Linked DNA regions of Homo sapiens. The protein of the gene in region 4 interacts with the protein of the main gene of each other region in a pairwise test. Each region holds a gene or a part of one and is shown on either strand. Other genes may lie near its edges. The genes, in order: FAM222B, ATG9A, PATZ1 and ANKRD10.

Region 1 (7,468 bases), on a different chromosome or scaffold from region 4:
CAGTAAGCCCACAGCAGCCCTGCCCAGGGAGAGGGCCTGTCAGCCGGGTACCCTGTGTCCAGGGTTTCATTGAAGAACTGTCTACAATCACCATAGCACCTGGCCTTAAATAATGGATTTGGAGACGGCTTCTGGGTGGGATGCATATTACAGGGGTACCCCTTTTAAAAATTAGGAATTACTCCTATGAAGTGAGGTATGTTAGAAACTGTTAAGAAAAAGTTACCTCAAACATTCACAGCACTAAACGAATAGAACAAGGTCAGAAAGCGAGGTTTTCTTATTTTTACTGGTTTATAATAATCTTAAAAACCCCATCACACCCATAAACCACCACAGGTGAGGTGAGAGAGATGGAGAATGAATGCTACAGTATGTGGATAGAATGGGGAATCCAGGTATTCCCTAGGGTAGTGTAGGATGGAGACAGGGAGTGTGGAGAGGAGGCCCTGGCTTGGACCCTTATTGCTGGCTGGGGGTTGGCTGGCAGAGGGGAGAGGGACTCAGGCTGAACTCCGAAAGAAGGAACATCTCACACCAAAGGCGAGGGCAGTTGGGGGCAGGGGGATCACAGTACATTTTCCATGCAGACTAAGGGTGGGAGTGAGAGCTTCAGAGGCTTGCACCCCTACACAGGAAGAGATGGGTTTGAGGTTGTTTGACTTAAAGCCCCCAAGTTGGTGTCTGGTCCAGTTTCCTAAAATAGCAGCTCACCTTTCAGGGAGAGGTATTGGGGAGGAAAAAAAAATACAGCAAGAATATCTGCTTTGGAGATCAAGCAAGGGGTAGGGGGAAGACAGTGGTGCTCTTTAAATCTGACTCAGAAAAGCAGGAACTGGAAGAGGGCCCTGGGTGAGATGGCGGCCAACACCTTCGGAGAAGGCATTGAGTCAGAAGCTACAGGTGCTCCTGGGGGATCAGGACAGGGAGGTACCAGTGTTCACAGACGGCAGGAAAACAATTGGGAACAATAAATTAGGACTTCATGTTGCTATCATTTGGCATAACACAATCAGGCTTTTTTTTTTTTCTTTTTCCTTTTAAATATAAGGCAACTTGCCAACACATAACTTAAAACTGGTCTTCAGTCACATTGCTTCAGATCACTAGAGAATTTCTGGCTAACGAACAGTAGTGGATAGTGAACAAAATGCAAAACCTTAAATAAGAACCATCAGCTGACATTCCCCAGAGACAAGAGGAAAGGTAAGGGCTTATTTCATCTGTAAAAAATAAAAAAGCCCAATTCTGCATCTTTAACAGAATGGTGCAAAAATTTGTAACAAAACAGTCTAAGTTTAAAATTACAGAAAAGTGTTTCTAGCCAACTAATTGTCGCTTGGGATGAGACGTGCTGAGCATGGAGTGGATGAAGGTATGCTCTAAGAATGGACAGAGGGCAGGAGGGGCTTGTTTCCAATGTAGGCCCAGCTCCAGGTGTTAGAACCATGCTCATTTGGTAAAGGAAGTACTCAAAGAGCTTAAGGCTTTGTGTTTGTTTTTTTTTCCTTCATTAAACTGAGGGGCTGCACTAGAGGGTGAATGTACCTGTGGGGCCACTCACACACAATGCTACTCAAACCCACACTACATTCATACAGAAACGTAACGTTTAAAACTTACAGTGTAGAGCAATATTCTTAGCCAGTGTAGAGAGAACCAAATGCATTTTTTTTTTTTTGGTGTTTTTAATCCCAAACTCCAATGTGATCATTCCTTACCTACCTAATTCCTCAAGTAAGGTAGATTTTGTTTTTGTTGAGGGGGAAAGGATAGGGGCTGTGGGGAGGTGAGTTAGGGGACAGGCAACAGTGAGAAAGGGATCTTGGGTATGCTCAAAGGTCACTGTATTTTTCTAGGTTTGGAAAGGGGAGTCTGGAACCAAGATGCCAATACAAAGACTTTTTCCCCCCATATCTCAAGAAATGGTCAAATACTTCCAAGATGCCCTTGAGATCAAGTGTGGCAAGGGCAAGTGCAGTGGCTGTGGGATCAATATAGACACAAAACAAAGCCTTGAGGAATGGAAAGGAACTTGAAGGATATGAAGACTGGGTCAGCTTTGATTTGAGATCCTTCGATGAGTAAGTAATTAGCTTTCAGAGCACCTGGGAAATCTTGCTTCTTAGTCCTGGAGGGAGGGGAAGGGGGGTAGCAACAGGTAGAGGTCTGGATTAGGGGCCTGAGCACCTATACTACCTCAACTAGGGCATTCCGTCAGCCCACACCTCAGTCGTCCTAAGGGAAACAGGAAGAGATTCAAGAAAAGATGGGTGGGAGCTGGCTGGAAATGGCCAAGGTGGAGAGACTAGCTGACAGGCAGTCAGTGGAGAGAAAAGCCTGGGCTTAGGGTTAGGTTCTAACATAAAACCAAAAGTTGCTGGAGGGGAGGACGAGAGGACCCCTTCTGTCCCCACTTAGATCCCACCAAATTCCCTTTCTTAGACATCTAAGAATGATCACACTGGAGCAGTGAAACTTTGAAACTATCCAGTTACTTAAAAGACTAAACCTAGGAGGGTGATGTATGATGTGTTGCACGTGGAGGGCAGCAGGGCTACCTATCTATACCCTGGGTGCTGAATATGAAGACTTCGACTCTCTGTGGGATCGGGGGCTCGGTTGCCAGGGGCTCGGTGGGCCTTGCTCAGCATGGCCAGGCTCTGTTCTCGGAAGCAGGCCTGTTGGAAATCCCCACTTAGGTAATCCACTGTTTGCATCAAGCTGTTCTGGCTTGCCACTGGACCGCCCCCGGTCCCTGCTCGGTAGTGGGCCCCGGGAGCTGCCGCACAGTCGAGGGGTGCACCTGTGGGCTGCCCACCGTGGAACGGCATGGCAAGGTCCTGAGACCCCGAGCTGTCGCTATTGGGAGTGGGCAGAATGTTGTTCCACAGGGGTTGGAAGTAGTGACCATTGGGGTAGGCCAATGGGGCTGCCATGCCGTTGACTGGTGGGGATGGGGTCGGCTTTTCCAGGGGTGGCTTCAGATGGAAGGACTGCGCCAGGCAGAGTTCCTGCGGGTAGGCAGGGGCCTTGCCCACAAAGCCAGGCCCTGCCAACTCGCGTCCTGCCGCATGCTTGCCTGTCAGGCCAGGGGCTGGCGTCCCACTAGCCTCGCTGCACATCTGCTGTAGGTGGGCCAGCTGGTGCTGGTTCCAGGTGACTGGCTTGAGGTCGCTAGGGTAGCCAGTGGGGACGCGAGAGATGCCTGTGGGCAGGTTGACAGGACCTGCAGCAGGCAACGCGGCGGTGGCCGCGTGGGTGTGCTCCATGGGATTGACCACACATGAAGGCATTGGTGTGGGGACGCTGTGGGTCGACACCCGGGTGCTTGCATTGATGAGCAGACTGCGACTAATGGGGCTGGGGTTGGCGATCTGGCCCTCACACACTGAGGTAGTGCTGATGCCTGCCCTCGTCTGGCAAAACTGGTTGATCTGGTGCACGATGCTACTCAGGTCCGGAGGCTGGCTGTGCTGCAGAGTGGCCGCCATTGAAAGGGGGATAGTTGAGGTAGACACGGTCACATTCGGGGGGGCATCTGAGTCTGGCATCTTCCGGCCTCCATGCAGCAAGGGATTGTGGGGGTGCTGGAGACCCTGGTGAGCCAGGGCCTGAGGGTGGACCAAGCCCTGGGTTTGGGCCATGGGCTGAGGGTGGCCCAGGCCCTGAGGCTGCTGGAGGCTCTGAGGGTGGGACAGTGCCTGGGGTGGCGGGATACCCTGAGGGTGCTGCAGCGTCTGGGGAGGGGCATGGGCCAGGGTCTGTGCATGCTGCAGGGCCTGCTGGCGGGCCAGAGCCTGGGCCTGGGGGTGGGCTAAAGTGCTGGGTGCCACAGTAGCATAGGGTGCCACTGGGGGGTTCATGATGGCCTCAGGGAGCAACCGGGCTCGGGTGCCGTCAAAGTCCTTGAGTATGCTTTTGGCTGGCACTTTGACAATGGCAAGCAGGCCTGCCTTGGTGGCAGCCTGTGTCGGGTAGGGGCTGTAGCGCTGGGCTGATGTGTCGAGGCCGTTCACAGTACGACGAACGTGTTTCCGCTGGGGAACCTTCACACTGTTGGGGAAGATTTTTATAGTCAGTGGGTTGTTTGCGACCTTCTTAGCATACGCATCCAATTCGGCTGGGGTAGGATAGTGAGCAGTTCTCATTTTCTGTGTAGTGTCCCCTAGAGAGAGAGAATGGGAAGGAGAGCAAAGAGGGAGAGGGAGCTCATCAGTGCCAAGGCAAACAGCCCTTCCAGATTCCCCTTTTGAGGGCCTGGGGTGGGGTGGGGAAATGACTAGATTGTCATCTGTAGCCTTCATTCGAGACCCAGCTTCAGTCTTCACATTAACAAGCACTGCTAATGTTCAGTAAGTGCTTATAGTGGGCCAGGCCTTCTGCCAGATGACAGGCCATCTCAATGAATCCTCACTATTGCTGTAGAAGCAGGCACTATCATCATTTACATTTTATAAATGAGGTAAGTAGAGATCAGAACAGCAAAGCATCTTTCAAAGTCTCATATCTTGCAGAACCAGAATTTGGCCAATTCTCAGAGAGGTAACCGAGAGTTCTCCCCCTACACAGAAATTCAGGGTCGCTGGGCACGGTGGCTCACACTTGTAAATCCCAGCATTTTGGGAGGCCAAGGTGGGTGGATCATCTGAGGTCAGGAGTTCAAGACCAGCCTGGGCAACATGGCGAAACCCCGTCTCTACTAAAAATACAAAAAGTTAGCCAGGCGTGATGGCAAGCACCTGTAATCCCAGCTACTTGGGAGGCTGAGGCAGGAGGATTAATTGCTTGAACCCAGGAGGCGGAGGTTGCAGTGAGCCGACATCGCACCACTGCACTCCAACCTGGGCGACAGAGCAAGACTCTGTCTCAGAAAAAGAAAAAAAAAAAAGAGAGAAATGCAGGGTCTGGAACTCTACCAGCCCATGTGGCTTGGGGGTAGGTTCTAAGCAAAGCTCCTTGTCAGGGCCATGGTGGCCCTTCAGTCTAGAGGGTACCCAGAGCTACGACTCTTCAGTCTGCAGGGACCAATGAGGGATCAGCTTTCCCTTGCATCTTGGCAGCTGGGGGGCTTTGCCCACTGGGTGGGCACCCTGAACAGTAGACAGAATGCTTCCTTTCAGGAGCAGAGGAATAAGCTGCCAACATCTCTCCCCTTCCCCATGTCACAAGTTCACTTTTGTTTACAGTTTACTCTATGCCCGACTGGATGAGGATCAAAGGCTTTATTTATTTGCTTGAGAAGGAAGATAATAATGACAGGGCAGCAGGGAGGGAATTGAGAAGAAAGGATTCAGAGCATCTTTCAGTCCTTTCAGTCCTGAGAGCCAAAAATAGTCTGTATTTGGTCCATGTCAGCTGTCATTTTCCAAAAAGAAAGAGGAAAAACCTGCCTGCCTTTGGAGACTGCGGAAATGCCCACTCGGTGTGCCTCATTAATGTTAACAGTCTCTTTGTTCCCATCTCCTGTTGCCTCCCATCAGGGGGCTCAGCGGATGTCCGGCTTCCAGTCAAAAAGGAAAAGGTTCTGAGAACAAGGGCTCTTTAAGGATGCCAACCTCCTGCAAGGGGGCTCTGCTCTACTCTCTCGTCTCTGAGGGAGGGTCTCCCCTGAGTATACACAAAAGGTGCCTAATAAATGCTTGCTGAATGAGTACACAGACTGCCCAAAGCAGAAGTGGCTTGGCAGGAAGCCCAGGCTCAGCTAGCCGACTCTCTCCTTACTTCCTCCTCTTGCAAAAGGCAGGAGGATAGGCCAACGACTAATCTGACTGAATGCCCAGCTTGTGGCCTCAGGTGGCCTTGGCCCAAAGGAGACTCTATTCAAAGTCACATCACTGGGCATCACCTAGAACAAAGGTAGGCTAATGAGCATATTAGAAGGAAAATGGGTACAGCTCTCTTTGTTTGGTGATAATGCTGGTTAGCAACTCCTGCTCTGGGAAGCAGGAAAAGAAAGCTCAAGTCAGGAGGGGCAGAGAGATTTGGGCCCATGCTCACAAGCAGATCTGGGCAAAAAGAGCCAGGCATCCCCACCTCCCAAAACAGGTCTGTGCTTTCAAATACTGGCAAAAAAGTCTGGGATCACTGATTGAGAGCAAGTCCCTAAACTCAAGACATCAGAATTCCAACAGAAGCTGCCTTGGTCAACCACTGTACCTATGTGTCTTATTGGTCATAATCTCATATAATACTCCTAGCACAGTGCTTTAAACCTAGCCCACCTCCATGCTGGTGGGCTTCTCTCCTTGAAATCCAAGTAGAAGTCGTATAGTACCTTGATGAGTAGAAGAGTCCCTTTGTTCCAAGTTAGTACCAACTCTGAGGTTTTTTTTAGCAGAGGCAAGGGGGAAGCTTGACCTCATTCAGGAGTATGGAAGGGGACACTTATCCACATTGATTAGTTTTCTTTGTCCTGCCTCCACTGATGCTGAAATGGTGAAGAGGGCTGTCAAAGGATTCAGAAATAAAGTGAAATGAGGGTAGGGAGGGTGGCCACAAGGCTACAGTAGCTTTGTTAAGGAAGAACCCCAAAGATGAGTACAGTATATTGAACAAAAAAGGGGTATCATTCTGGGAATACAGCACCATCTACCTCACATACCAGACTTAAGCCTAACTCTTAAAAAAAGTTTTCTGCTGGGCGCAGTGGCTCATGCCTGTAATCCTGGCACTTTGGGAGGCCGAGGCGGGTGGATCATGAGGTCAGGAGTTCAAGACCAGCCTGCCCAGCATGGTGAAACCCTGTCTCTACTAAAAATACAAAAAATTAGCCTGGGATGGTGGAGCGCACTTGTAGTCCCAGCTACTTGGGAGGCTGAGGCAGGAGAATTGCTTGAACCCGGCAGGTGGAGGTTGCAGTGAGCAAAGATTGCACCACTGCACTCCAGCCTGGGTGACAGAGCGAGACTCCATCTCAAAAAAAAAAAAAAAAAAAAAAGTTTTCTCAGCTGGGCATGGTGGCTCACGCCTGTAATCCCAGCACTTTGGGAGGCCGAGGTGGGTGGATCACGAGGTCAGGAGTTCAAGACCAGCCTGGCCAAGATGGAGAAACCCCGTCTCTACTAAAAAAATACAAAAAATTAGCCGGGCATGGTGGCAGGTGCCTGTAATCCCAGCTACTCGGGAGGCTGAGGCAAAGAATTGCTTAAACCCGGGAGGCAGGGTTGCAGTGAGCCAAGATCGCACCACTGCACTCCAACCTGGGTGACAGAGTAAGACTCCGTCTCAAAAAAAAAAAAAAAAGTTTTCTCAACACTTATCACAGCCCCCACACAGGCACCCTGACTACTTATTTTCTTCTGTAATGTATTTCTGTAACTACACAGCCAACACAGATACCACAGCTTTGTAAGCGACTTACTTAAATAGCTTATACCAATAGTGTCATTAATAGAGACATAGACAATGTAGGGAATAGGAAATCTGTAGTTTGTAAAGGGTTAGAGAAACCTGTATTCAAGTACTA
Region 2 (7,468 bases), on a different chromosome or scaffold from region 4:
TATTCCTAATGTACCACCATGGACAGACAAAAGTTTAGACAGGTTAAGTAACTTGGTAAAGTCACACAGCTAGAAAGTCACAGAGCCAGGACTTAAGCTTGAGTGTGTTGACACCAAAGTCTGTGCTCTTACCTGCTTTCTTTACTGACTACTTTTTCTTAACAATTACACGTTTATAATCTGCACCAGAAGAATGGCTTCACATGTATGCTCATCGGGGAGATCTTTGAGCTCATGTAAGTATAAGAAGGGACAGATGATGTGGTGAAAGAATACATCTTAGTCTTTCCTCTCCTTGCACTCACACTTGGCCCAACCTGCCAGTACAACTCAGTCCTAGGCTAAAACTCCGTAAACCTTTGTAGTTCAGGGACTGGGTGTGGCACCAAAACTTACAGCTTCACCTTTCTTTTTTTTTGAGATGGAGTGAGTCTCACTCTGTCGCCCAGGCAGGAGTGCAGTGGTCTTGGCTCGGTGCAACCTCTGCCTCCCAGGTTCAAGTGATTCTCCTGCCTCAGCCTCCTTAGTAGCTGGGACTACAGGCATGTGCCACCATGCCCGGCTAATTTTTTTTGTATTTTTAGTAGAGATGGGATTTCACCAAGTTGGCCAGGCTGGTCTCGAACTCCTGACCTCGGGTTATCTGCCCGCCTCAACCTCCCGAAGTGCCGGGATTATAGGCATGAGCCACCACGCCCGGCCAAGCTTTCTTACAAGAAAAGCTTTCCAAGCCTTATCTCTTCCATGAAAAGAACCCAAGCCTTGGTTGGGCACGGCAGCTCACACCTGTAATCCCAGCACTTTAGGAGGCTCTAAAAATACAAAAATTAGCTGGGTGTGGTGGCACACGCCTGTAATCCCAGCTACTTGGGAGGCTGAGGCACAAGAATCGCTTCAACCTGGGAGGTGGAGGTTGCAGTGAGCCGAGATTGTGCCGCTGCACTCCAGCCTGGCTGACAGAGTGAGACTCTCTCAAAAAAAAAAAGAATGCAGGCCTTGACCTTGATCATCTCAACGCTCCAATGGAACGTACATTGTTCAGTCAGGAGGTCTCAGAGATGCCAGCCACAGAGAAAAGCCTCTGTTCTGCCTTGCCTGTTCCATGGCCTGCTCCTAGGCAGAGAGCCTCCTGGGAGAGAGAAGCCATATAGCATTGCCGAAGGGGAAGGGGTTAGGAAGCCCTCCCTCAATCAGAAAACTCCCCCAAGGGCTTTTAACTACAACCTCAAAAGGAAATCAGAGACTGGAGATCAGAGACCCACAGGATGAAACCTTCGAGAGTCCAGTAGTGGTGGCTGAGGTTACCATGAGGTGAGGAAAGTAGGCTGCAGCTGTGGCAGCTGAGGCTAAGAGCAAAGAGTGGGCCTGAGACAGTCCTGTGGGGCTGAGGAGCAGAGAGGGCCCACTGGGAGTTCTCCAGGCCCTTCCAGTTCCCAGTCTTGTTCTGCCACCTCCAGACTCTCCTCTTCCCACTGGGTTTCACTGGAGCCTCTCTGGCTCTCAGACTGCACCCCTTCTTCCCAACTCCCCAGGCAGTTCCTCTTTGTGGTTGCCTTCACTACCTTCCTGGTCAGCTGCGTGGACTATGACATCCTATTTGCCAACAAGATGGTGAACCACAGTCTTCACCCTACTGAACCCGTCAAGGTCACTCTGCCAGACGCCTTTTTGCCTGCTCAAGTCTGTAGTGCCAGGTAAGGGCTGCAAGTCAAGAGGACACCATAGCCTTGAGTTCTGCTAGCAGGTGGGTAATAGAGTGGAGTCTGAGGCAGCAACTCATACTCCAGAACTGACTCAGGCTTGGTCTAGCAAAAATACTTCAGGATAGCAGCGTCTCTGCCAAGACTCCTTCCTCGAGGGCCACCTCTCCTCCCCTTCTTTTTCCCCACCAGGATTCAGGAAAATGGCTCCCTTATCACCATCCTGGTCATTGCTGGTGTCTTCTGGATCCACCGGCTTATCAAGTTCATCTATAACATTTGCTGCTACTGGGAGATCCACTCCTTCTACCTGCACGCTCTGCGCATCCCTATGGTAAGACTGGGAAGTTGGGCAGTTAGCCCATAGTCTAAGACGTATTGGGAGGTGTGGGTGTATTCCTGGGCATCAGTTATCCTTATCTGTCATTGACAAATCAGGAACTGTCTCTTAAGCTCACAACCCCTGAATCTCACTTCTAATATAGGGCAAAGGGGTCGAGGCAACAACCCCACCTTCCGTACCTTGTCTCTTCCCCACCCCACCCCGCAGTCTGCCCTTCCGTATTGCACGTGGCAAGAAGTGCAGGCCCGGATCGTGCAGACGCAGAAGGAGCACCAGATCTGCATCCACAAACGTGAGCTGACAGAACTGGACATCTACCACCGCATCCTCCGTTTCCAGAACTACATGGTGGCACTGGTTAACAAATCCCTCCTGCCTCTGCGCTTCCGCCTGCCTGGCCTCGGGGAAGCTGTCTTCTTCACCCGTGGTCTCAAGTACAACTTTGAGCTGATCCTCTTCTGGGGACCTGGCTCTCTGTTTCTCAATGAATGGAGCCTCAAGGCCGAGTACAAACGTGGGGGGCAACGGCTAGAGCTGGCCCAGCGCCTCAGCAACCGCATCCTGTGGATTGGCATCGCTAACTTCCTGCTGTGCCCCCTCATCCTCATATGGCAAATCCTCTATGCCTTCTTCAGCTATGCTGAGGTGCTGAAGCGGGAGCCGGGGGCCCTGGGAGCACGCTGCTGGTCACTCTATGGCCGCTGCTACCTCCGCCACTTCAACGAGCTGGAGCACGAGCTGCAGTCCCGCCTCAACCGTGGCTACAAGCCCGCCTCCAAGTACATGAATTGCTTCTTGTCACCTCTTTTGACACTGCTGGCCAAGAATGGAGCCTTCTTCGCTGGCTCCATCCTGGCTGTGCTTATTGCCCTCACCATTTATGACGAAGATGTGTTGGCTGTGGAACATGTGCTGACCACCGTCACACTCCTGGGGGTCACCGTGACCGTGTGCAGGTGGGCCAGGGCCACAGGCGGGAGCAAGCCGGCTAGCATTCCTGGGAAAGGCATACATCTCACCATGATCCTGATCCCACTAGGTCCTTTATCCCGGACCAGCACATGGTGTTCTGCCCTGAGCAGCTGCTCCGCGTGATCCTCGCTCACATCCACTACATGCCTGACCACTGGCAGGGTAATGCCCACCGCTCGCAGACCCGGGACGAGTTTGCCCAGCTCTTCCAGTACAAGGCAGTGAGTGGAGTTGGAGTTAGGGCCTGCTAGAGACTGGCTGGTAGCTCGGTGGTGAGGGCTGGGCTCCCTCCTGCTCGCTTGTGACCTTGGTCCCGCCCTTTTAGGTGTTCATTTTGGAAGAGTTGCTGAGCCCCATTGTCACACCCCTCATCCTCATCTTCTGCCTGCGCCCACGGGCCCTGGAGATTATAGACTTCTTCCGAAACTTCACCGTGGAGGTCGTTGGTGTGGGAGATACCTGCTCCTTTGCTCAGATGGATGTTCGCCAGCATGGTCATCCCCAGGTACTGGGAGAGGAGGGAGCCAGGTGGCCTGGGATGATGCTGGAACATACAGTGTCTTTGGGAAAACCGCAAAAAGACACCTCTCCTGAGTCACACAAAGGCAGTCCTATACCAGGGGCACACTGCTTGGGAGCCTGGGCTGGATTTCAGCCCTAATTCGCACCCTTGGCCAAGCTCCCTTAAGAAAGGCACAACACGGCCAGGCGCGGTGGCTCACGTCTGTAATCCCAGCACTTTGGGAGGCCAAGGCGGGTGGATCACGAGGTCAGGAGATCGAGACCATCCTGGCTAACACGGTGAAACCCCTTCTCTACTAAAAATACAAAAAAATTAGCCAGGCGTGGTAGCGGGCGCCTGTAGTCCCAGCTACTCGGGAGGCTGAGGCAGGAGAATGGCGTGAACCTGGGAGGCGGAGCTTGCAGTGAGCCGAGATCACGCCACTGCAATCCAGCCTGGGCGACAGAGCGAGACTCCATCTCAAAAAAAAAAAAAAAAAAGGCACAACACAAGTAACTGGCTCAGCATGCAGTGCAGCCCCTCCTGGGTCTGGGGGGGCACCAGTGCCCTGGGAAAGATTGACAGTATACTGTGGTCTCCGTTCTCCAAGGGTAAGGCCTCCCCACTAACAGGAAAGGTGCAGGAAGGCTCCTGGAAGAGAACAGCCCTGCTTACTCTGCTCTTCCTTGTGCAGTGGCTATCTGCTGGGCAGACAGAGGCCTCAGTGTACCAGCAAGCTGAGGATGGAAAGACAGAGTTGTCACTCATGCACTTTGCCATCACCAACCCTGGCTGGCAGCCACCACGTGAGAGCACAGCCTTCCTAGGCTTCCTCAAGGAGCAGGTTCAGCGGGATGGAGCAGCTGCTAGCCTCGCCCAAGGGGGTCTGCTCCCTGAAAATGCCCTCTTTACGTCTATCCAGTCCTTACAATCTGAGTCTGAGGTGTGTTCCTGGTGACTGGGAGATGATGGGCAGAGTGGACTTCAGGAGCTGGGAGTTGAGGGACCGGGCATGGGGTGGAAGGCTTCCTGCTGTCTCTTCAGTATGTGCCACTGGGGCCTGAGATACAGAATACTAGGGGACCCCAGAGACCTTTCTCTTGCCTCAAGAATTCTACCTACCCGTTTCGTTCATAGCCCCTGAGCCTTATCGCAAATGTGGTAGCTGGCTCATCCTGCCGGGGCCCTCCACTGCCCAGAGACCTGCAGGGCTCCAGGCACAGGGCTGAAGTCGCCTCTGCCCTGCGCTCCTTCTCCCCGCTGCAACCCGGGCAGGCGCCCACAGGCCGGGCTCACAGCACCATGACAGGCTCTGGGTGAGTAAATCGGGGCCAAGATGGGAGGGCACGGCAGCCCTCAGCAGCTTGTGTGGGTCTCAGAGAAGTTCACAGCTGCTGTCTGTCTCTGTTGGGAGAGACAGGGTGGATGCCAGGACAGCCAGCTCCGGGAGCAGCGTGTGGGAAGGACAGCTGCAGAGCCTGGTGCTGTCAGAATATGCATCCACAGAGATGAGCCTGCATGCCCTCTATATGCACCAGGTGAGTGCACAGCTAAAAAAGAGAGTAGAGGGTTTAGATGCGGAGAAGCAAGACCGGGGTTCCAAACCCTTCTCTGCCATTTACTTGTTCTGCCACCTCCACTCCCATATCTACCTTCTTAATATCCTTTTTAGCTAAGCCTGCTCTCATCCAGGGCCTTCACACACTCGCAGTTTCCCCTGCCTAGAATCCAGTTCCCTGGGATATCCAGATGGCCTCCTCCTTCTTCTTGGGTCTCTGCAGCTGCCGTTTCCCTGAGACTTTCTCTGATCACTCTCAGTAAAAGGCTCCCTTGCCCACCCTCCTGAATCTTCCTGTCTTAGTTTTCTCCATAGCATTTAGCACCATGTGACATATCATGTTTTTTCCTTATTTATTTGCTTATTCCATATCTCCTCTACCAGTATATAAGCCTCACAAGGGCTGGCATTTCTGTCTGTTTTGTTCACTGCTATCTCCCCACACCTAAAAGAGTGCCTGGCACTTAGACCGTCAGTCAGTTTGTTCCTGAATCAAATGAATAGGTAAAATGAGGGCCATTACAACACAGGCTTCTTCCGGGGATCTGCTGTGAATGTAACCTGTAAAGATCAGAGGTATATTACACACTATTAACATAATAGGTGCTCTGAGGCAAGGATTCTCAGGGAAGGGGTAAAGCGGGAACTGACTGATACCAGGTTGGAGGGCAGCTGTTTCAGATGGACATCCGTCTGTCCCCCACTAACGAGCCCCCCATTTCTCCAGCTCCACAAGCAGCAGGCCCAGGCTGAACCTGAGCGGCATGTATGGCACCGCCGGGAGAGTGATGAGAGTGGAGAAAGCGCCCCTGATGAAGGGGGAGAGGGCGCCCGGGCCCCCCAGTCTATCCCTCGCTCTGCTAGCTATCCCTGTGCAGCACCCCGGCCTGGAGCTCCTGAGACCACTGCCCTGCATGGGGGCTTCCAGAGGCGCTACGGTGGCATCACAGGTATCCAGTGGGGGTATAGGAGGAAACAGAGGCTGCAGGGAAGGGTGGTTCTTCCAGGGCCTCTCAAGGGGAGGAAAGAGGTCTGAGAGAACAGGCCCAAAGACTCACCCCCCAAGCAGCCCCCCAGCCCTGTTCCTCATTCTTGTGTTCCTTCTATGAGTATGCTTACTCTTACTTGTCTCTCCAGATCCTGGCACAGTGCCCAGGGTTCCCTCTCATTTCTCTCGGCTGCCTCTTGGAGGGTGGGCAGAAGATGGGCAGTCGGCATCAAGGCACCCTGAGCCCGTGCCCGAAGAGGGCTCGGAGGATGAGCTACCCCCTCAGGTGCACAAGGTAAGGGCCCCGGGGCCTAGGAAAAACTGCCAGAAATAGTAACTTCCAGGGTGAGGTAACAGCTTTTCAGGGGAAGGAAGATATGCCCCACCCCCACACAGAGATACTGTACCCTCCCTTCCAAAACACACTACCCCTTCTTTTCTCAACTGCTCTGCAGGGCTTGGTTTTTCCTTACCTTACCTCCCCAGGAATCAACCTTTCCTGTCCCTTTACCTCTAGGTTTCTATGGGGCTAGCAGGTATCAACCAGAAGCTGAAGACTATCTCCATTACCAACCCTTTCTCCCCACAGGTATAGACAAGGCTGAGCAGGGTTCCTGTGGCCCAGGATGGAGGCCACCGCTGCCCTGCCATCCCGTCTGCCTGCCATGGGACGGCTCCTCTGAGTGTTCCCTGGCCCCACGTGTGTGGTGTTTGTGTGTCTGTGCCTGGCCAAGGGAGGTGCCAACACTGGGCTTGCCACAGCCCCAGGAGAGGAATTTGGGGCCTAGGAACCGAGGGCACACGGGACTCTAGCCTCATCCCCAGGACCCCCTTGGCTCAGAGTGTGGTGCTAGAAACTGGCCCCCAGCCCAGCCCCAGTACTGCCACCTTTACACCTACCCCTGCAAGTCCCCAGAGGGCTGCCCACGATAGAAGCTGCCAAGCAGGGAGAACCTGTGCCAACTGTGGAGTGGGGAGGTTGGGCCTGGACCCTCAACCCCTGCAACCTTCCCTAGCCCCCTCAATAGATGAGCAGGTCAGGCTGTGGCCCTTACCTCACCCGCAGTTCTCGCCCAGTGCTGCAGCCGGCTCACCTCTCTCCGCTTCTTGCACATCACTGGCCTGTGTGTGCTGCTTGCTCCTGTTCTGTTCGCTTGCTCCCGTTCCGTTCGGCTTTTGCTTTGCGTTAGGGTGAAGACCCTAGCGTCCAGCTCCCCTCAACGCTATATTTTGACACTAAAAAAGAAGGTTTCTAAATTGTAGGAGCAGGATGGAAATACTTTGCTGCCCTTGCCATCTTTTAGGATGGGCCCCCAGGAGACTGAGGTCTTCCTGGGCCCTCATTGCTGCTTATCGTACCCCCCATCACCTGCACATGGGACAGACCGGGCTGGAGGGTGACCTT
Region 3 (7,468 bases), on a different chromosome or scaffold from region 4:
GACTCAGGATGGAGGGTGGCACTGTCCACAAATCGGCTTCTCTGCAGAGCCCACTCTGCAAGGCTGCGGTGAGGGGCTGAGGCTGGCTGCCTGGTGGGATGGCCTGAGATCCTGCTCCTGCTAGGGCCAGAGGCCAACTGCCTCTAGGGTTGCTTGGTGCCTCAGTAACAGGTGGTTTGAGTGGATGTCTCCTGCAGGAACCATGACTAGAAATGTGGTTAGACAAGAATTTGAGGCTCCAGGGAAGCCACAGGATTCTAGCCAGCAGGATGCCTGCTTAATCCTCGTAAAAGGAAACTGGACAACAAACGAGATGGAGGTAAAATGAAATCCCAAAGGAACGCCTCCAAGGATCCCGTCTTCTACCTGTCAGGAGATGTTCTATTTTTCTAACTTCCCCACCTTCAGCATAACAGGATTTAGTAACTGTTTAGACCTTTTGAAGAACAAAGACAAAAATAGGAAGTTGTGTCAGAGGAGTGCAGTCATCTCTTATTCATGGTAGTGTTTTGGTTCGATTTTGGAGCATCCACCAGGTTCGCGTACAGGAGAAGAAACACGGATGATCTCTGTCTTTATTTTGGGGGAGGACAATCCGGCCTTCTTGGGACTGTTCCAGCCCACCTCCCAGATGCTTCGGTCAGTCTGATCCACGAGATATCTCAGGCTGGGAAGAACACATCTTGGGCCAACTTCCACAGCAGCCATGCGTCCAAGGATACAGAATCAGGCAGGCCGATAAAAGGATTTTGACTTGGGTTTCACAGGAAGGAGGTATGCCATCAAACCCCACTGTAGTCAAGGATCAGAAGGTGCTTTTAGCAGGAACTGAAGCTTTTTAGTATAAGGCCCACTTAGGGTGCCAGCACCCTGACAGTGTCCCTTTAATCCACTTCAGATCTGGTTGACTCATCATCAGGTGTTTCCATTCACTTTCAAAATTACACAGTCACAGGATAACAGTGAGATCCACTGCTAAAGGGTAAAGGGTCAGAGGCTGAAGAGTACTGTGTAATGTCTGCATGAGATTTGTTTTAAAAAAGTCTGAATTGGCATGGTATTTTGAATGCTGCTGGAACTGTAATAAAGGTTCACCTTTAGGAAGTGCTGATGGCACACCAGGGCCCAGCACACCGCATGCACTATTCTATAGAATTTGCCCAACACCCTTTGTGCTACAGATTACTATTATACCCATTTTACAGATAAAGAAATAAGAGGCTTTGTGAGGTTAGGGAGGCTGAGGTGGGCAGATCACGAGGTCAGGAGATCGAGACCATCCTGGCTAACACAGTGAAACCCCGTCTCTACTAAAAATATAAAAAATTAGCTGGGCGTGGTAGCAGGCACCTGTAAGCTGAGATCATGCCACTGCGCTCCAGCCTGGGCAACAGAGCGAGACTCCGTCTCAAAAAAAAAAGAGGCTTGGTGAGGTTAAGTAACCTGGTCACACGTACAGCTACTGAGTGGCAGAGCCTGGACTCCAACCCCAGGATCATGTGCCACCAGAACTTGGCCCTTAGCTACTGGGCAGATGCTTTAACCCACTTATGCCTCATGTTCCATTATTGGGACGCTAACCTTTTAGGAATTATTTGTATCCTACTGCTCAAGATCATCATTAAAGTCTGATTTTTCACAAAAAAGTTTGTAACCTCCAGCATAAATGGGTTAATTGGTTCCTGTGTCTTAGCCCTGAGCCCTAGAAATATCCAGTGGACTTTTACAATAGGTTTCATTATTACCATTTACACTCATGTATTTTTCGACCATAATGGTATGTTAGAATGGAAGCTGCTGGAAAAACAGGGCTGGCCTGTGGGAACTTTATTTAACAAGTTCTCCTCTGACAGCAGCAGTTAGTGGTTCTGAAGGGAAATGTGGGATTGGGCCAATTTTCCTTCCTTTCCCAATACAGCTACTTCAAAGATCTGTCTAGACCAGGTGCTGGTGTCCTGCCCTGCCTGGTAGAGCAAGTTGTCCTGTGCTATGACCGCAGTGGTCTGCCTGAGGCTGATCATGGGTATAGATTGGTGTAAGAGGGTCCCATGTAGACATCCCTAAGAGGGAGGCTGTAGTCAGGAGTGAGGAGACAAGGCTAATGGGAAAGAGGCTGTTAGCCCTGCCCCTTGGGGTGGTACTGTAGAGTCCCCTAAAACAAAGCAGAACCAGGAGACATTGGCTCCCACCAATCAGTACAAGATATTAGAACTTTCTGATAATATGATGATACCACTTTAGAAGGTAATTTTTTCCTTTTTTTTTTTTTTTGAGACAGAGTCTCACTCTCGCTCAGGCTGGAGTGCAGTGGCACCATCTCGGCTCACTGCAAGCTCCGCCTCCAGGGTTCATGCCATTCTCCTGCCTCAGCCTCCCTGGTAGCTGGGACTACAGGCGCCCGCCACCATACCTGGCTAATTTTTTTTGTATTTTTAGTAGAGACGGGGTTTCACCATGTTAGCCAGGATGGTCTCGGATCTCCTGACTTCGCGATCCACCCGCCTCGGCCTCCCAAAGTGCTGGGATTACAGGCGTGAGCCACCGTGCCCGGCCTTTCCTTAGTTTTTTAATCCCTTGTGGGGTCTCTAAAATAGCATGAAGCTCTCTCCCTGTGATGAACCAGAGCAGGTCCACTGCAATCAAAAGGGGACAGAAAGGAGCGGGAGAGCACCAGGAATTATTATGTTTACTCCTTACTGGGAGAGCTATACCAAGAGAACACAGCAGATGCTCAATAAAAACTTGCTGAGTTTGGCTGGGCGCAGTGGCTCATGCACTTTGGGAGGCCGAGGCAGGCAGATCACCTGAGGTTGGGAGTTCCGGACCAGCCTGACCAACATGGAGAAACCCTGTCTCTACTAAAAATACAAAATTAGCCGGGCGTGGTGGTGCATGCCTGTAATCCCAGCTAACTAGGGAGGCTGAGGAAGGAGAATCGCTTGAACCAAGGAGGTGGAGGTTGTGATGAGCTGAGATCGCGCCATTGCACTCCAGTCTGGGCAACAACAGCGAAACTGTCTTGCTGAGTTTTCCTGAAAAACAGTCTTAGAAACACGTGGCTGAGTCCTCTTGACTTTACCCCAGCTGCAGACTGTACTATCTATAGCAAAACCACATGGCGGGGTGGTAGGAGTGGATCCACAGCTGCCACTTAAAGCCTAGAATTTAAACACAGAGCAACTCAGCAGCCAAGTGTTAGGATGAAACAGAAGCTGAGCTTCTGAGCAGAATACGTCTTTGAAGCCAGACATATTTAGCCGGAATTCTAAACTTACCCACCCATTCACCACTGATTAACCAAGATCCAAAGAGGCAGCTTGATCCAGCCATCCACGCAATGGAGATGCTGAGCACACATATGACTGCCACTACAACCAACAAGCCACCGGCCCTTTCACTCCAGAGACGATGGTCTTATTAGCAAAAGGCCACTGCTCCTCAGTTGCATTTTCTTGCCTGGTGTGCCTGCACTTGGCACTCCAGAAGCAAATCATCCTTTGGCAGGTTCCACATCAATGCAGGGGTTGGGGACTGCTTTCTCCTTGTCCAAACCCTGAAGGGGCCATTCCCAACTGCACTGTGTTGGAGTGGGCCTACATAGCTTGATGTGAGTCCAGGGGAACAGCAGGTTCCCTGCATCCATCCACTTGTGTGCTTACCTCTGACTGGGGAGAAGGCTTCCTCTACCTTTCAAGCAATGATGTTTGCATTCAAATGTCTCTGTCAAAGGCGGATTCCTGATAATCTGTTCCTCTTCACCATACCAGCACATAGGCATATATACAAAGATCCTGCTACAGAAACTTTAAAGGAAGAAAATCATGGTGATCAGCCAGGGCCTTCTCCCTTTTCCACTGTTCAACTCAACTGATTTCCTCAACTCAAAAATGTGGGAACAAGCTTTTCTAGCCATAATACTCCCTCCACTGCAAATGATCTTCCTGTACAAATAGTATCATACACATCCTGATATGTCTGTATGACAAAGCCAGAGTCATCTGTCTCTTCAACTTGCATCTGACTCACGTGTGAGGCTGCAGGAGTCAGGCTGCCTTTCCTCTTTGCCATTCTTCACAGCCAGGAGTCATTTTTGTGGCAAAAATTGAAAAAGACAGATCTATAGGTAGATACTTAAGTCAACTATTTAAGAATTGTTGGGATTGAAGGATCTGAGGGCACCTGGAAGTTCACCTGATTCAATCTTAACTGTTCTGACATTCAGCCTTTGTTTGAACACATGCAGAGATAAGAACATTCGTTTATTCGTGCAACCCCTCCTGTAGGTACAGGCTTGGTGGCAGCAGGGCAAAGGAGGACACAGAGCTCTCTGCATTTTGATTCCAATGTCTCAATGTTTTTGGTGCTCAGAAAGAACTTTATCCTCTTCCTTTTTTTTTTTTTTTTTTTTTGTCTCTTCCTATTTCTGCCCAAGGAATGAGTCCAGGAGTAGAATCCTGCTCCTTCTCTTCTGATAAAAACTGCAATTGTTTTCTCTTCTTTCTGAGTACCCAGCATGGGTTGGACCAGCACCTTCTTTAGTCTTCTTGCAGGAAAGGGACTTCCCGCTCTGGCTCTGGAACCCAGAGATGTTTGGCCTGTGATCCAGACCCAGTCTTGGCTTTTCTGAGAAAAAGTAGACTCTGGTTTACTCTTCTGGATTCTCCATTCCGGTCATGTAGCTTATGGCTGTTGCCCAAGTTCTCTTTACTAGCCCTTGGAAAATAAATCCTGATGTACAATAGTTGTTGGCTTTGCCACATCAGCTGCTTCCTTACTGGGCCAACTTTCCCACTGTCCCTGCTGCTCTCAGTTTTTCTCTCCTCCTGAGCTGGGCTTCAAGGGCTGTAGCCCTGGGTCTCCTGTCCAGTTTCTGCCCTACTCCACCATCTGGTCTGGGCTTTCTGAGTTTTATCATGAGCACCCTTCTCCACTCAGCAGTTTTCAACCTCTGGTCTCTGACCCCAGTTCTCAGACTGGGAACTTCCATATTGAAAACTTGACAAAATGCCTGCTAACAGCTTGTTACAGCAGGTTTTGAGTTATCCGGGGGAGCTGTCAGGAAGCCAGGTTAGGATGAAGCAAGACAAGAAACGACATTATTTCTAGGGCTGGGGAAGCCCCAGTCAAGACAGTCAGCCACAGCCTGATAACTCTCCCTGCATGCGCAAGCCCACCGCTTGCAACCTGGAGGAAGCTCCTGTCAGCAATGGGCTCTAATGACATGTCAGAAAACAGAACAGACAGCTTAAGAGACCTTCACTACTACTTCCCTGCTTTCACAGCAGGTGTCCTGGTGGTACAAACCCCAGGTATGAAGCTGCAAGGAGGGACCCAGTTCCAGGACACCAAGAACACCCAGCTACTCAGCAATCTCCTTCCACCGTGGACCTCGGCACATGAACACAGCACAGGCACCCAACGATTCCGCCAAGGCCTGCAGGAGTGTTGTGCCTGGTCCAACCCAGAGTGTCAACAAGCATGTCTTTCCCAACATTGTTACAAAGTGCAAGGATAGAGTCTCCCAAGTGTGCGGCTCCTTTCACCTACCTTGTCTCCTGGGATCCTCATAACAGCCCTGTGAGGTGGGAAAGGGGGCTATTCTTAACCCCATTTGAGAGATGAAGAAACTCAAGCTTAGAGAGGGAATGGGAGAACTCGAGGCCACCTAGTGAGAGGCTGGGACTAAACCCTGGGTCTCTTGACTCCTGGTTCAGTGCTGCACCCACTAAGCAGGCTTTCGGAAGCATTGGGACAAGCAAGAATGCCCCAGGAGATAAGGACATCCCAGTGCTCCCCACTGGCCAAAGCAAAGCACACCATGCAGAAGCATCCTCACGTTCACAGATAGCTGCTCCAACCTCCTTTAGCACAGACACAGTGCAAGCCTCCACTGATGCTGTGCTTGCAAAACACAAACATCTAGCACTTCCAACAGCCAACTAGACCCGGCAGAACCTTGGGGACAGGCTTGACTTCACCCAACACAACACCACTGCCACAGAGTTAGACACTACTTAGGCCCACCTTGTCCTCAAGCATGCTGCCCTGCTCAGAGCACCTTCCACTTTCCTCTCTCAAGGCCACAATCTACCTGAGTTTGGGCTCTCTTCTGACTACTTGTGCTACAAAGTGTCTGCTCCTTGTTTATCTCCAGACTCAACCTCCTTCCCTGGCTGCTGAATTTCATATGCCAGTGAATCAACCAGCAAAAGCTCTCAAGCCGGACCAACCTCTTTTTCTCTCACTTTGGGACCTACTAACTCCCCCACCAACCTCAGTGGTTCAGTGGTGTCTGCAAAATGCATCCATCCTGCCATCTGAGTAGCAGGTGAGAGTTATGGGCCCAAGCTTGGGAAGAACCTCTCTCCTTCTGTTTTGACCTGCTGGTCTCCTGGGACTTCCCATTCTAAGCACCCCAAGCTTCTTGGGAAGGAAGAGGTAGCAAATAGCTAGTTGGGTGATGAAGGTGTTTATCATTCAGTGGGAAGTAGGGGGTGGCTGTGCAAAGAGTGGAGTCTGAGGCAGGGTGATTGAGACACCCCTAGGCCTCCCATACACGCTCAGGCCCATCCTCTGGAAGTGAGGAAACAGTGGGCAGATTACCTCGGTTACAGATACTGCAGAAGTTGCTGGGCCCCTCGCTGTGCTTCTTCAGGTGGTCTGCCATGTATGCTGCCCGCAAGTACTTCCCACACACCTGGCAGGGCACCTTGTCTTCATGACAGGCCAGGTGGGAGCGCAGACGGTCTCGGGTGGCAAAAGAAGCATTGCAGGTCTGAAGGCAGAAAAGAAAATGGGATGATGTGAAACCCAGCACCCCACACCTGACTCCCCACCAAGTGCACCATGAAGCAAAGGCAATTTCTGGCCATCACATGACCTCCCTTTATAAAGACAGCTTTAGAGTTTGGCTCAGGCTCCCTACCCAGAATGCCAAGAGGCTGCTCTTATTTCCCATGGTACCTCCTTACGGGACACTTGAGTGGGAATCACTGGTACTAACTAAATGACTACTGGAAATGTACCCAGGACATGGCAAGCTAAGCTCTATACCCCTCTACACAATGAAGAGTTACACATTTGCTCATCCTTAGACATTAAGAATTGACTTTAGGTGCATTAGCTATAATGCACAGAATTACATTTACATGAATTTACAGATGAGTTATTGGCATATAAACCAGCCTTCCTGTTCTGTATCCCTGGGTTTCCCCTAGTTTTATACAAAGAATTATATTTGTTCATTTTATTCAAAAGTGACATTAGTCTTGGCCAGGGAAATGGAAAGGAAAGGCAGGACAAAGTGCAGAGATAATTATTCGTAATATTTTCACGAGTTTGAATTGAAAAAGCAGCCCATTAAATGATAGTGGCAATTCTGACGACATGAGAATTAGCAGACAGCAAGGGCCAGAGGCTTCAAAAGTGTCTGTGGGCCGGGTGCGGTGGCTCATGCTTGTAATCCCAG
Region 4 (7,468 bases):
AAGGATCACAGCCCAAACTAATGGCGAATCTTGCCAATAAACTTAACAAAACAGAAGCTAAGCTATTCACAGATGATTGACAGCCTCCGGTACCTACACACGTCGTGCATTAGCCTGTATGGTTTTGCTGTCTAGGATCTATTTTCAATATAATACAGAGTCAAAGCAATGAAATGGAAACCAAAGGGTTAAACTAGTTTTGTGGGTTTTATTTCCTCCGAAGTCTAAATGTTCACATTTCTGATTAGAATAATGTGGTTTATAATTAATTTTCATGAATTATTCATAACACTTAAGGTAAAACAAAAAAGCTGATATTGGTTATTTTGGTTATTATAGCTCTATAGCTTACACTCAACATTTAAGGGTGAAAACCGCATCCATTTTGTTAATGCTGTGAACTGCAGAAGAAAAATTTTTATAATATAAATTTTTAAGAAAAAGTTAATACAAATAAATGTAACAACTAAAATAAATGTATAATGCCATGGCTAATGATTTGCATATAAGATCTCATTTCTAAAAGACTACACGTAAACATTAAGATTGTCCTATCAAAGCATAAATAAGCTAACTGATGTAAGCTGGGCTAAAACGAAAGATATTTAAAAATAATGCCACCAGTACCAGAAGCTTACAGCAAGCTTGAGGTCTTTAATGTAAATAGTCATATTTTACAAGGAACTATCAACCATTAAGTTACAATGGGCTTTAAAACATAACTTTCTCACATCTGCTAAGACGTGGAAATCAAAACCTAGAAAAGTGAATTTTCTTCAGAAACCTTCTGAGCCAGAGAGGTCTGAAAAGATATTTTAATCCAATCCAAGCTTCTTGTTTTGAAATCAAAATTAGGCAAAGAAAAGTTTAAAGACCACAGTGACACAACTAGTTAGTGGCAAAGTAATGGTGGCAAAGTAATGATGCCAAGTTCCAAATCTAATTAGTTAACTGTTCTTTCAGTTCAAATACACTCTCTCGACAAGAATATTGAGGCTGCTGTGAAATTAAACCCCCTCCTCTAGAGATCAATTTAATCCACACAATTTTCCTCACTAACACCAACTGTTCTAAAAGGCAAAATTACATTACTAATTTTGAAAACAAAGTTTTAGGACTTTTGCCTGCTTATGTACTGCCTTTAAACAAAACATCCTCAACTACATCTTTAGCTGGAAAGAATAAACGAAAGACACTTACTCGACGTGAGCCCCATTCGCCACAAGGGCACTGATGCATTCTAGGCTCCCAGAGCGAGCTGCCTTGTGAATGGGAGTTTCACCCTCACAATCCTGAAACAACAAAAAGCAAAATATACACATACTTAGAACAAAACTTCTGACATTTTGGAAGTAATGTCATTAACACAGATCAGAGACCTTCTCATCCTTTTTTGAAGTAAAACATGTTGAGCAAGATCTGAAGCAGAACACAAAGAAATCTATACGTGAATGGAGGATGAGAACGAACCAGGAGGGGCCAAGATATTTGGTCGTTGACCAAATATCTTGGGGCCTCTCCAGTAGTGACAGCGTGATTGCTCTCAACAGTGATTTATAAATCACTTTACACTGGATCTTAGCACGTGTGTTTTATATAAACCCAGAATAAGTAACCAAACAAACAAGCCAACCAACCAACCACACACACACATTAAAACGGTCATCAAGGCCAAGAAATAGCACATAATAGCTGACATATGGTCTCAGCTACCCACTTTCCTCTGTGCCTACCCCAATGCTAACCCGAGTCAACATCATCAATGCCGATCTTGAATCTTCTGCTTTGAACTTGAAGTGGGACCACAACTTAGACAAGATGGCTTGAGGTTCAACAGTTGATCTATTTTTCAGTATTTACTAGAGGGAATATTTACTAAATATTCCCAATCTATTTTCAGTATTTATTAGAGGAAAGGGAGAAGAACACAAAGGTAAAGCAAACCAAGCTTCATAAGAATGAAATTCCTGGTTCAGAAAGTGCAGAGGGGGTGGGGTGGCGGCGGTGGGGAGGTGAAGCACACACAGAGGCAGAGAAAAGTGAGCAGACCCAGGAAAGCCACTGTGAACATCAGCAGTCAACCCAGGTCTACACTGCATGAATGAAACAACCTGAAAGACCATCTTCATAGGCTATCAGCTAAGCAAGAGAGGGGAAAGGCAATCAGACACAGCAATCAAGAGAAGAAAGTGCTTTCCGGTGGAAAATGAAGACTGGGAAATCCTGGGGGCTCCACAGCAACACTTCTTTTTTTTTTTTTTTTTTTTGAGACGGAGTCTCGCTCTGTCGCCCAGGCTGGAGTGCAGTGGCGGGATCTCGGCTCACTGCAAGCTCCGCCTCCCGGGTTCACGCCATTCTCCTGCCTCAGCCTCCCAAGTAGCTGGGACTACAGGCGCCCGCCACTACGCCCGGCTAATTTTTTGTATTTTTAGTAGAGACGGGGTTTCACCGTTTTAGCCAGGATGGTCTCGATCAGCAACACTTCTTGAATACTCACACTGCAACCTCACTGGAAGCTGAACTGCGCAGACTACCACACAATTAAGAGACCAAGATAAAAAGGAGTGCAGCAACTGTGGGTCACTTAGAAAACAGTTCATTCCTAAACTCACTAAATAGCTAAGCTCCTTCACCAACTCATACTCACAGGAATAAACATGAGGTGAGGGCCACCCAAAGTTAAAAAAAACAGTGGTAGATTAATTTACAGAAAAATAAGAGTATGAAAGGCTCGAGTGCTTGGTAGAGGGAAAAGTGTGCACATTTATTTAAACAAAGGTCTAAAGAGACTATAAAGCAATGTAAAGTTCTAAACAGAAAAATCCATTTTTGAAGACAGAAACACAGAAAACCATGCGGCTATAAACTATCCAGTCAACTCGGATTTTTTAAAAAGCGAAAACCTAGCCCTATCCTCCCCAAAAGAGAGGTGAGGAGGGGAGAGAAGTAGTACAAAATAAAGACAAATAAAAATTACATAAAAACATTCCCAGGAAAACTGGAGCTGAGATTTAGATAAAGTTTTGCCAAAAAAGAAAAAGGCTAAAAAGGAAAAAAGGTCTTTAAAGCTATCCTTGGAACAAGACAAAAAAGTAAGGGTCTGTCACGGTGGGATATTAACAGATGACAATGAAAAAGCAAAACTACCAAGCTCTGCAGGGACAATCTTTAGGGGCAGAGCAAACACTAGAGAAAGGCCCGGACATCCTGAGAGAAGGTAGCCAAGAGAAAAGATACGTAAGACTAAAGAGCCAGGTGAAGGTGCCCGGGCCTCCAGCTCAGCCCAGTCACATCGCAGCCACAGCAAATTGAGTGATCTACAGGGAACTGGGAGCAGTGCCAGAATGCTCAAGACAGGCTGGGCACCCTGGGTTTTCATAAAGAAAAATTTCATTTCCAATCTAGATATGAAAAATTAAAGACAACATCAAATGCCAAAATTCTAGAAGAGGCATATGAAAGAGAAGGTTTGCTAATTACGCACCAAGGCTAGTCAATATAGATTCACTAAAAACAAATCACAGGAAAGCTGGCTTCATTTCCTCTTGGGGAAATCGAGAACACAGGCCTCTAGGCAGCATACGAGCTTTGGTAATCTCACCTCAGAGACTGCCAAAAAAGTCTGTGGTATTAACTTTGAGGAAAATGAACTTAGAACTGTTAGTAGCTAACATGCCAAAAGATTAACAGACTAGAAATTGGCTTAAAACACTGCATCAACAGGTTCAAAAAATTAAATGGACACAACAAAGGAGAAAAACCTGGATTGGATTTGGCATCCTGAGTTTATATGAGAAATGAGAGAAACTGTCTACCTGGAGATGAGTCAGCAGGTAGGCGGGGTGGGGAGCTAACAAAAGGGCTATTGTGTCCTCTAGAGTCACTGGGTGCCCATAACAAGAGGTGTTGAAATTCACCCACTACATAATAGAGTGAGATGATGCCTCAGATTCGGATGTAAACTCCACATGCCAGCAGACCACAACTACCTAAGATACACTAAGGAGAAATTCCAGGATGCTTTACAATGCCAAATGATATGCACTAGGCACATGTGAGGACTTGGAAATGTCTACCCGGATACTTCAAATACAGGGAGGGCTGAAAAGAAAAAGATTTTAGGATCCTGCCTGGGAAGAAGCAGAGTGCGGTAGAAGTTTCCAGGAGGTGTTATCTAGAGGCATCTGAGAGGAAGGTGGGAGACCCAGCAGCACACTTTCTGCCTCACTCCCTTTATCTACTGAAAATACTGAACTGCCATAAGACACTTTGAAAAGGGGGCTTCTTGATTTAAAAAGGTCTGGAAAGCAGTGTTAGACAATTTCTCTAGTCCTCTCTAAATAAGATGCTATGTAACAATTTGATGAAAATTAACCTACAAAAATGATATACTTAAATTCCATACTATTAATTACTGCCATTCATGGAATTATTAACTGTATTTTACTGATAAAGAGATTGAGCCACAAAGTTAATGACTTGCCCAAGGAATCAAGCCCACACTGCCCTTTCTACCAGGGGACAGGGGTAGGGAAGAAGGAAAAACACAAGGCGCTGCCCAGCACATAAGGGTATTGAGTAGGTAATTCATAACTCTCGAATTTATGAAGACAAGCAACAGAGCAGCAGAGAAATATACATTATGTAAAGGCACACGTGTGGAGATGGAAGGAGAGAAGTGGCAGCACAACCTTAAAACTTGTCCCATATCCCACATTTCAGTTTAGTAACAAACAGGCCTCAACTCTTGGCCACCTTCCATTTTCTTTTCTACTTCACATCTTTTAAGGGGACAAACTGCCTTATAACTTACCCCACTTTCCCATTGATCCTTGTTTTAAATCATGGCTAAAAACACCTTCTTTCTCAATTACTTACTGCTCAGGTGGGTAGCTGGGTTTTTAGAAGAGGGACTAGCAACAACCTTATGCCTGGTTATCATGAAGGACTGAATCTTGGGAAAGAAAAGTAGAAAGACGACTTTGCATCCAAGACCTTGATGACTATAAAGCATTTAAAGATAGGAGTAAAAAAGGCATAAAAACCAGCTCCCAGAGCCCATGCCCAGGTCTTAAGAGATGAAAATTATCAATTAGTCTAAGGACTAATCCATCTGCAGCAAAGGACGCTGAGTCTAGGGACTGCTCCCAGTCAGACAACCTAATGGTTATTAGATGCTGCTTGTCTCACACAACTAAGTACCTAACAATCTGAATGCGTGTGTGTTTGGTTTAGGTGAAATGATACTGAAAACACACCATGAAGAAAAATCTGGCACGATTATGTTCCTGTCAGTATGTTTAAATACCAAGTCCTCAAGTCACTTACTCTTCCCACTTAGTAAATGATACTTAGCACTTATCTGCATCAAGGCATCAACTTGTATCTGAAGCTCACTTTGGAGCTGACTTAATAGCCATGCTTTTCCCAGGATGAAAATGTTTTCATAATTATCTGTGGAAATGAGGCTAAGGCAGCTATGAGTAGAAAGCCAGGAAACCTGGGCTCAAGGCCAGGCTCCTTTAATTACCAGCTATAACCTTGGGCACATCACCCTGGATCAGTTTATCACACAACAGGTGAAAGCACTCTATGAACAGAAAGCATTCCTATGGAAAGGGCCTACTATCCTCCACAAACAACTGAAGAAACATAAATTCCAGTCTGCCCTCAGGTAAAGATATCAAACTCTAATTAAGGCCTCGATTTAAAGCAATACCGTGTATAATTATAACTGCAAAAAGAAAAAGCAAAAGCAAACCAAGTCCATCACCAGCACTCTTACCGGTTTGTTAATGTTGGCTCCTGCTTGAATCAGCCAGACCAGGCACTGAGGATGTCCCCCAAAGGCTGCAATGTGGGCTGGCGTCTGCGCGTACCGTGTGGTGGAGACGTTGAGTGTGGCTCCCGCTCTCACCAACTGCACTAAGCACTCCAACTTCGAAAACAAGAGGGGTAATGAAAACACGCAGACATGTCAGTACACTATTCAATATTACATGAATAATCGAAATTCTATAATGGTGACAAATGGCATTGTTACCAGTTTTTTAACAGATTAAGTCACTCTTTCCCAATGCCATGCAAATTTTAAAGGACATTTAAGATAACATATTCCCTTGTCCTTATGAAAAAGACGGTAGATAGAAATAGAAAAATGCAAAAAGACGACTAACACTATACAGATTTAAATATTTGTTTCCCTACAATTGAATAAGCCAAAATCAGAAAATATTGGACTGCGCTGTTCCAAGACTTCTATCAAAACTGTTTGTTGCACAGACTATTCTAAACAAAAACGTTAAAGGGATTGGTGGGTTAAAAAACTTTGTGTAGGCCGGGCGCAGTGGCTCATGCCTGTAATCCTAGCACTTTGGGAGGCCAAGGCGGGTGGATCACTTGAGGTCAGGAATTCGAAACCAGCCTGGCCAACATGGTGAAACCCCATCTCTACTAAAAATACAAAAAAATTAGCCGGGCGTGGTGGCGGGCACCTGTAATCCCAGCTACTTGGGAGGCTGAGGCAGGAGAATTGCTTGAACCCAGAAGGCGGAGGTTGCAGAGGGCTGAGATCACGCCACTGCACTCCAACCTGGGCAACAGAGCAAGTCTCCATCTCAAACACCAACACCACCACCACCACTTTGTGTAATGCCAGGCGCAGTGCCTCATGCCTGTAATTCCAGCACTTTGGGAGGCCAAGGCGGGTGGATCACCTGAGGTCAGGGGTTCAAGACCAGCCTGGCCAACACGGCGAAACCCCATACTGGGGTTTCAAAAATACAAAATTACAAAAATTACCTGGGTGTGGTAGTGCATACCTAGAATCCCAGCTACTCAGAAGGCTGAGACAGGAGAATCACTTGAACCTAGGAGGTGGAGGTTGCAGTGAGCAGAGATCACGCCGCTGCACTCCAGCGTGGGCAACAGAGCAAGACCCTGTCTCAAAAAAACAAAAAACAACAACAAAAAACCCCACAAACTTTGTGTAGCCATAGTAAACTCGTCATAGTCAAAGACTATTTTCTATAGTGTGCACAACTGTGCACTTTTACACAAGCCAGCACTGAATACTCATTGAATAATCAATAGAGGCCCCATTCTCCACATTTTTTTACTCTTTTCAAAACCCTATGGGGGAAAAAAGCCTACAGCATAACTGAGCAATGCACCTAGTGGGTGACTAACATGGCAAGTTAAGACTTTGTGGCCAAGCACCAATACCATGATAGCCTCTGGCTAAAATAATTTAGCGCATTCAACAAATTTACCAAGTGCCTACCATGTGCCAAGCAACTGTTCAACCCACGTTCTCTGATCCTGGACTGCTCATTTTCCCTCACTCCAATCACAATGCAGTTAGGGAACAAGCTATGCCTGACTGCAAGCAATTCTCTTCAAGAGGAGAGACCTCACCTGAAGACAAAACACCTGACACTACCATCTCAACTCAAGGTTTCTTTTTCCA

The links.
Region 1: the proteins of ANKRD10 (region 4) and FAM222B interact in binary tests that used the Homo sapiens proteins (3 or more experiments, as listed by UniProt).
Region 2: the proteins of ANKRD10 (region 4) and ATG9A interact in binary tests that used the Homo sapiens proteins (3 or more experiments, as listed by UniProt).
Region 3: the proteins of ANKRD10 (region 4) and PATZ1 interact in binary tests that used the Homo sapiens proteins (3 or more experiments, as listed by UniProt).

The regions. Positions count from the first base shown.
Region 1 is NC_000017.11:28,755,709-28,763,176, forward strand, and holds the end of FAM222B (protein FAM222B), read right to left. Parts: intron 6,449-7,468; exon of another isoform or gene 6,366-6,448; coding exon of another isoform or gene 6,278-6,365; intron 4,169-6,277; coding exon 2,562-4,168; 3' UTR 272-2,561; downstream 1-271.
Region 2 is NC_000002.12:219,219,637-219,227,104, reverse strand, and holds part of ATG9A (autophagy-related protein 9A), read left to right. Parts: intron 1-171; coding exon 172-236; intron 237-1,532; coding exon 1,533-1,694; intron 1,695-1,892; coding exon 1,893-2,034; intron 2,035-2,250; coding exon 2,251-2,999; intron 3,000-3,082; coding exon 3,083-3,236; intron 3,237-3,340; coding exon 3,341-3,520; intron 3,521-4,211; coding exon 4,212-4,460; intron 4,461-4,654; coding exon 4,655-4,833; intron 4,834-4,937; coding exon 4,938-5,055; intron 5,056-5,802; coding exon 5,803-6,025; intron 6,026-6,212; coding exon 6,213-6,358; intron 6,359-6,652; coding exon 6,653-6,658; 3' UTR 6,659-7,468. UniProt on the Homo sapiens protein: Phospholipid scramblase involved in autophagy by mediating autophagosomal membrane expansion. Cycles between the preautophagosomal structure/phagophore assembly site (PAS) and the cytoplasmic vesicle pool and supplies membrane for the growing autophagosome.
Region 3 is NC_000022.11:31,329,089-31,336,556, forward strand, and holds part of PATZ1 (POZ-, AT hook-, and zinc finger-containing protein 1 isoform long C), read right to left. Parts: intron 6,776-7,468; coding exon 6,604-6,775; intron 6,329-6,603; exon of another isoform or gene 6,261-6,328; intron 1-6,260. UniProt on the Homo sapiens protein: Transcriptional regulator that plays a role in many biological processes such as embryogenesis, senescence, T-cell development or neurogenesis. Interacts with the TP53 protein to control genes that are important in proliferation and in the DNA-damage response.
Region 4 is NC_000013.11:110,904,833-110,912,300, forward strand, and holds part of ANKRD10 (ankyrin repeat domain-containing protein 10), read right to left. Parts: intron 5,939-7,468; coding exon 5,786-5,938; intron 1,293-5,785; coding exon 1,201-1,292; intron 1-1,200.